Linked DNA regions of Homo sapiens. The protein of the gene in region 2 interacts with the protein of the main gene of each other region in a pairwise test. Each region holds a gene or a part of one and is shown on either strand. Other genes may lie near its edges.

The links.
Region 1: the proteins of RIGI (region 2) and STAT1 interact in binary tests that used the Homo sapiens proteins (3 or more experiments, as listed by UniProt).

What each region holds. Positions count from the first base shown.
Region 1 is NC_000002.12:190,997,030-191,000,859, forward strand, and holds part of STAT1 (signal transducer and activator of transcription 1-alpha/beta), read right to left. Parts: intron 2,676-3,830; coding exon 2,597-2,675; intron 1,280-2,596; coding exon 1,188-1,279; intron 979-1,187; coding exon 827-978; intron 1-826. UniProt on the Homo sapiens protein: Signal transducer and transcription activator that mediates cellular responses to interferons (IFNs), cytokine KITLG/SCF and other cytokines and other growth factors.
Region 2 is NC_000009.12:32,516,056-32,519,885, forward strand, and holds part of RIGI (antiviral innate immune response receptor RIG-I), read right to left. Parts: intron 1-3,830.

The DNA.
Region 1 (3,830 bases), on a different chromosome or scaffold from region 2:
TGGTGCTGAGAACCTGCACCATCAGGCTCCAGCATCTCCCACCGGGTCCACTTTCCTTCCCATCTCCCTGGACACCCCACTCTCCAGCCACCCAATACAGCCCCTGCAGTCTCCCACATGTGTGCCTTTGCACACGCTGTGCTCTGTGCTGGAAAGCACTTCCCCTTGATCTACGTGGAGTAATCCTAGTGACTTTTGAGTCAGCACAAGGCCACTTCCTCTATGAAACCTTCCCTGGAGATGCTTTCCTTTGTCCTCCACAGAATTCTGATGGCCTTTTGCTAGAGCACCTGGATACTTTTACCACACGAATTATTACCATGTCTACATCCCCCCCTCCACACTGAGAACTCCTTGTTGGCAAGGGCCAAGAATCACTCATCCTTGTGTGCCCAGGTCCTACAGTGCCCGGCACACAGTAGGCATTTAATAAGTATTACTGGATGGATGACTGAATGTTTCCTAAAAAACTATTCTGTAAGCCTAGAAAAATGCCTCAAGCTATCTTGTTTTTAAGGAAACATTAAGAGTCAAGTCATTAAATGTGTTCTATAACGACCATGTCACTGATGTTTTGTACAGTCAAACGACACCCCATGGTACAGGAGTGCTCCAAACCAAGCAGACGTGGCTGAACGTGGCGAGAGTCATGAATAACACTGTGCTTTCCAAGGGAGTGTTTCCAGGGTAAGCAGAAGCTGGACTATGTCAAACTCTATACTAATGTTTTGACAGGGTCCATTCAACTAACACAGCTCAAAGGTACATTTATGTGTTTATGTGGTTAGCCAGTCAGCTGCCAGTTTTCTGCTTTGGAGAATCTTACCAGTTCTGCAGCTGATCCAAGCAAGCATTGGGCGGCCCCCCAATACAGGCGCTCTGCTGTCTCCGCTTCCACTCCACTAGTTCATCATTAATCAGGGCATTCTGGGTAAGTTCAGTGACATTCAGCAACTCTATTATTTTGTGAACTACTTCCTAAAGGCAATAGAAGAAACAAAGTGAAATAAATTCATTTTTAATCACTGAATTTTAAAATATTTTTTAAAAGAAAAGCAAATATCATTTCATTCTCAACTGGGGCTCTAAGCCAGGTGGCTATAATTTTTCCTCTCTTCTAAACTTTGAGTCCATTATTTACAGTGTATAACAAAAGTGGCATGCTATTCTGGAAAGTAAATAACTACCTTTCTCTTATTGTCAAGCATTAAATACATCTTCTTGAGTAACAGCTGTTCTTGTTTCTGATCACTCTTTGCCACACCATTGGTCTCGTGTTCTATAAATTGAGAGACAGCCAGTAAATATATAAAGAAGACAAAACCAACAAAAGCCAAGATTCATATAAATTTAGGATAAATATGACACAAATGCTGCCTAGTGACAGGTCAAAGTTTGGCTTTCTTCGATCTTTAATGAACATGAAAAAAAGTCCTAAGTATAACAACTAGACACACTGAAACAAAATACTTGTTTTCAAAAATTAGCCGGGCGCAGTGGCAGACGCCTGTAGTCCCAGCTACTCGGGAGGCTGAGGCAGGAGAACAGCATGAACCCGGGAGGCGGAGCTTGGAGTGAGCCGAGATCTCGCCACTGCACTCTAGCCTGGGCGACAGAGCGAGACTCCGTCTCCAAAAAAAAACAAAAAAAACAAAAAAAAAACAAAAAAAACTTGTTTTCAGTGACCCATGTAAATCAGACATAGTAGTATCTGCCACTTAAGACACTGTCAGGTAATTACCTAAATAAATGTAAATAACATTAATAATAATGTTATTATTATTATAAAAATAAATGTAAATAATAAAATGTTTTATCTGAACAGAATTCAGATAAAAAATGTATACAAAGCATAGCTGTAGCTTTCAAAGAGAAGTAGATGAGTAGGAAGTGGTAGTTGAAGTTGCTGTCTCTTATACTTTCTACCCAAATCATACTGATAATCTCTGCCTATGAACCATGGTATACCCCAGATGATGAATAGAGTAACAGCAGTACCCTACGTGTCCTACACAATGTACATTCTTGAGATCTTTTCTGTTGCTACTCTCATTAAAAACACGCAACAGTAAGAAAATACAGTAAAACTGCTTTAAAACATGAGAAAAATACTGAGCTTATCTGCTGTGTATACACGTGGCCCTGCAACGTTTGAAGAAACCTGAGATATTAGGGCAGGGGAACTCCACATATCTATCGCTCTGTGTCAGTCAGTGGGCTAGGCGCAATAAATATGGTGAGTAACACATAACCAGTGGTTATCAAGTAGGGGTCACTGACCCCTAGGGGACTTTTGGCAATCTCTGGAGACAGTTTTGGTTGTCACTAGTGAGGGCTCCTGGGTAGTGCTACTGGCATCTGGTGGGTAAAAGTCGGGGATGCTGTTAAACACGCTACAATGCCAGGACAGCCCCAACAACAAATTAGCCCGAAATGTCAATAATATTGGATGTTGAGAAGCCCTGGCCTGGGTTATCAAGGAAGAATTCAGAGTCATAAAATACTCGGCAAATAGAAAGGAGTAATCATCTTCGTTATCTAGTGTGAACAGAAAAAATTGCAGCCAACGGGCACCACTTCAGTTGTGAACCCTTACCTCTGTTCTGCAAGGTTTTGCATTTGAAGTCATATTCATCTTGTAAATCTTCCAGGCTCTTGATTTCATGCTCTATACACTACAAACAAAGATGTAAACATGTTTTCTACTGATCAGCAACTTCCAAAGACTTTAGGCAACAGAGTATTGCTTCTATGGAACCCAGAGAAACACGAAAACAATTCCATCTCCCCCAAAAAGAGATCTGACTTGGACAGTTCTAATCATATACATGAAATAATTTCGGTTTCATTAATAAGTATGTCATAACATTTTTAAAAAAGCAAACGTACAATAATTCTCAAACTGATTTGTATGTCCTTAACCTGGTTCCAGCGCCTAAATTTTGATTCTTCCTCATCATTTTTGAGACTACCTCTGAGATATGATTTAAGAACTCCACTGTGAAGCCCACAGCAGGCGGGGAAAAAGCTCACAGAAAATTTCCTCATTCCTTCCAAGTAAGAAAAGTGACCATACATCCCTGCTTTACCGGGATAGACCTGGTTTCATACTTGCTGTAATTATAAACAGTGCCCTCTTGGCGGCTCAAATGCATCTCCATCTGGACAATAAATTGTATGTTCATTCTACAAATAAGCCTCATTTGTTTGGGATTTGGTCACATTTCCACATATTCTTCTCTGGATTTCCATGGCTATTTCTGGACTGGGCTCACTCGGTTTCTACTTTAATGAAATGTTTCCCTAGGAGACCGCAAGATGAAGTTGCTCCAAAGAATGTGGAGTTTGGAAAGATGCTGTCTGAAGCATGTAAGTCAAGGCCATACTGCTATTACCCAGAGATCCACAGAGGACCAAACCCCTAAGCTGGAAGGCCTTTTCCACAAACACAGGCCTCTGTGAAAAAGAACTCCTCAAACCCTCCCCACACCAGCCCTAACAGTGGAGAGGAGTAAATGCGCACCATCGAGGACGCCAGAGCAGCCCTCTGCTTCCATAAATTGACTTGGAAGTTGTATCCTAAAATTGCTGTGGATGTCTTAATCAGAAATGTATCCAAATTTCTTTCAATAAAATGTATTTTTGTTCCTCTTCCAAGTCTTAGGATAAAACAGATGACTGGGAAGGATGGGCCATGTTTATCCTGGGGCACTGTGATTTGAGAGGTGTGGACATAAAGGCCCATTTAGAGCAGCAACATCTCATTTACTGGGTACTGGGCAAAGTCAACATTTACTGCATGATCTTTCAGGGAAGAAAAAGCTAAACTC
Region 2 (3,830 bases):
TTTAAACTTGAAGCTTACACTTGTTTTATCTGAGATCCTTTCTCAGGCAAAAGACCACCAGGCCTCTCAAAAAGTATCAAACTGAAATTCACCAGATTATCACATCCAGACAATGAGGCCAGGCCCCTCATTCATCATGATTGCTTCCTGAGTTCCTGTTTTCCCACACAGTTACATTTCTTCCCTGCTATATAAACCCCTAATTTTAGTGGGTCAGGGAGATGGAGTTGAGACTAATCTCTCATCTTCTTGGCTACAGCTCCCAATTAAAGGCTTCTTCCCTGGCAATACTTGTTGTCTCCCTGTTTGGCTTTCTGTGTGGCTACCAGGAGGACCTAGGCCAAACCCCTGGTGCTTCAGTAACAGATTTTTGTGGCTGGGTTGCTGTGGTCTAGGAGTCTCAGAAGCCCTCCTAAGCAACTGCCCACCCAATTTTGGCTGGAAGTGAGTTTTGGTCTCTCTGGCCCTGCTGCTGCCAGCCCCAGCTGAGTTCCTGATTGCTAGGAAGAACAGCCTTTGAAATGTGACACTGGCATCTGGATAAGTGAGTGTCCTTTCTTGGCCCAGACAGCAAGATCTGCTCAATTTGAAAATTTTAAAAGGAGCTTCCATTTGCAGGTTAAACCAGCCCAACTGACTAAGAAAGGGAAGCACCCTGACTCTCAGTATGATACTCTAGAGAGCGTGTTTGTAATTTCTGTGTTTGTGTCTGGCCAAGTTAGTGTCTTTTTTGGGTACCAGACAGTGGGATCGGCTTCTCTCAATTTGGAAAATTCCTAAGAAATTTCTGTTTGCAGGTTAATAAAGCCCGATTGAGAGAGAAAAGCACCTCGACTGTTTCAGTTTGGACACTGTTCGGGCTTGTCTATTGCTTCAGCAGTCGGATTGTGTTTTGTTGATTGTATGTGTCAATATAGTAATGGGAAATTAGAATTCAACAAACAAATATTCTTTTGTACTACGTTTGCCCCAATATTCTTTGGAATCTGGAGTTGGCTGTTGAATGGGAAAGCCAGGTGGAGTCCCATGTATTCTGGCTTTTATGCCGCTGTTTTAAGCAGGGTTGGGCCTGGTGAGTAGTTTCCACATGACGTTCTTCTGTAGTGCTGTTTGGCCCCAGGTTTCTTTGGAATCTAGCTTCTAAAAATCAAACTGCCATGGAAACTGCTTTACCCAAAATTCTGGTTCACAGCCTTCATTGGATTACCGATTGGAGCAAACAAATTTTAGCCATGTGGACTTGGTTGTAGATTCGTGAGTTTGTATTGCTATCTCATGGCTAGAGTTCCAAGGTAAAAGCTGTTGGATCTTTGTGTGTGTATACATGTTTAGATGTGTTTATCTAGATGTACATTAACTATGTTATACACTATACCTACCAAATTGGCTTATAAATAAGAGTGCTCATAAATTAAGTCCAAAGTGTTTTTCAAGTTCACATGACTTCAGTAAATCTTTAATAAACAAGCTGTCTTTAAAATTATTGGTAAAATAAAAATAGAAATGTCTTCAGAATTGTCAGCATACATTTTTGTCTCGGCTTTATATTTGTCTCAGCTAGATAATTTGAGGTATCAGAGTTTGGCAGCAGGTTATAAAGCTATAAACCCAGTGAATATTTGTGTGAATTCTTTATAAGACTAATTTAATGCTGTTAGTTTAATGAAAACAGCTGAATCTTCTGAGTTATTGATCAAAATGCCCACGTATTAATTTTAAGGTTATTTAGGTGAACACCTGACATTCACAGGTTATAAAATGGTTAAGAAGGAAATGATGCAGAAATAATCTAGATAAACTGCTAAAAATAAATAAAATGTAAATGGTCAAATGCTGTAAATGAACTTTTGGCATAATCGGAAATATAATCATTGGATGTTTGAGTCATTTCCAATTAAGAAAAGGTTATGATGTGGGGAACATGTTTCTAAAAATTGTGGAATGGTTCTCATCTATAAAATACTAATATCTGCTAGGCAGCTCAAGATTTCTTGCTTCCTAGGTTTTTACTGAAATTTAAGGTTGTTACTAAGGATAAGAATTCTAGTTCATATGTAATTCTATATATAAAATGTGCAAAAGACAATGTGTTTTTATTCAGAAAAAAATTTTATCTAACTCAGAAGTTATCTAAAGTTTATTAATAATTATGGACTTGAAAGGTTACTTATGAAACAAGGTAGAAAAGAACAAGTAGACGAGAGAGATGTGGAGAAAGTTATGAGTATAAAGATGTATTTTTGGTAAGGAAGGTTATAAAGAAAATAATTTTGTATGACAAAGCATCTTATAATGGTATTTTTTTTGTCCTAAAGTAAAATGACTGTTTAAAAAAAAAAAAAGAAGAAGAAAAAGAACGAAAATCCAGGACAAATCAGAAAGTCTAAGCATATCATAGATGGTGTGTGTAAGTCATGTAGTTTCTTTCCTATTTCTTTGTGTGTCTACCTTTATGTACAGACAGAGAAAATACAAAGTATAAAAGGCTTAAATAATATTCTCTTAAAACCAGATAGAATATTGGAGAAATCTGGCTAATTAACACTGCTCATAGTTAAAGCTCTTAGTCTTGATGAAAGTAAAATAAGAAATATTGTAAAGAAACACATTGGCAGTTTGGCAATCCTTTCTTAATATAGTTAACCATGAAGCCAGATAAAAGCCAGATATAGCAACAACCAAATTTCACCTACATGCTTGCATTGCTTCACACTGTATTTGCTCTTCTGCATAGATATACTATCATTACAGTATAATACTTACTGGTCGGCCTCCTCCAGAGTAGCTGGGATTATAGTTGTGTGCCATCATGCCTGGCCAATTTTTGTATTTTTAGTAGAGATGGGGTTTTACCATGTTGGCCAGGCTGGTCTCAAACTCCTGGCCTCAAGTGATTCACCCATCTTGGCCTCCCAAAGTGCTGAGATTACAGGCCTGAGCCACCACGCCCAGCCTAAAGTGAATTTCTTAATTGCACAAAATATATAGTGGTATTGGTGAACTTAAAGACATTAAATTGTGCATCAGGAACAAAATATTCATCATGTGTTTTTTTGGCTCTGGGTAACACTATAGCCTCCAAGTTAAACTGAGTAGAAAATTTTCAGGTTGGTTTCCTGTTTGTTTTTTCTTTTAATTTGCATTTATTTGCTGTTTCTTCTTCTTTAGGTTTTACTTATATATACATATTAATAAAACCATTGATGGCTTTTAGTTTCTAATGTAAGGAAGGCTTTTATTTGGTTCCATGAATAATCATTTTGTTTCCTATGCATTTCCAGTATCTCATCATTTGCTCTACTTATCCAAAGTTCCTAAGCTACCTTTTTCAAGCTTCCAAAAATTGTTGGTGGACACCAGCCTTTAAAATTTGTTTGGTTTTGCTTACCTCTAATGAACTAGAGAGCTATAAGAACTTTAAGATTCCTGGCAAAAAATAATAAAAGGTTTATTCTTCTAAGTTCTGAACAGAAATAGTACATTATTATTGGTTATTTGGAAAAGTAGGTGAGAGAAATGTTTAAGTGGTGTTTATTTCCAAGGTAATTCAATTCAATAAACAATAGCGGTTTCAGATCTTTTCCTTTAATGAGGCAAAACTGCTATATGGGTACAAAGTCTTAATATTCAGAAAAAAATTGGCTTTGTCTTTAAGGAAATTATATTGATTGGGCTTTCTCTCAAACTAATTTAGTTGTGTTTACTATTATTAAGATTAAATAACATTTACTTGGATTAAGTCATAAAAAAAATTATAAGACTTTCTAGTGTTTTTTTTATCCTAAGCCATTTATCACTGATGGGCCTTCACATGTATACTTGAAAACAAA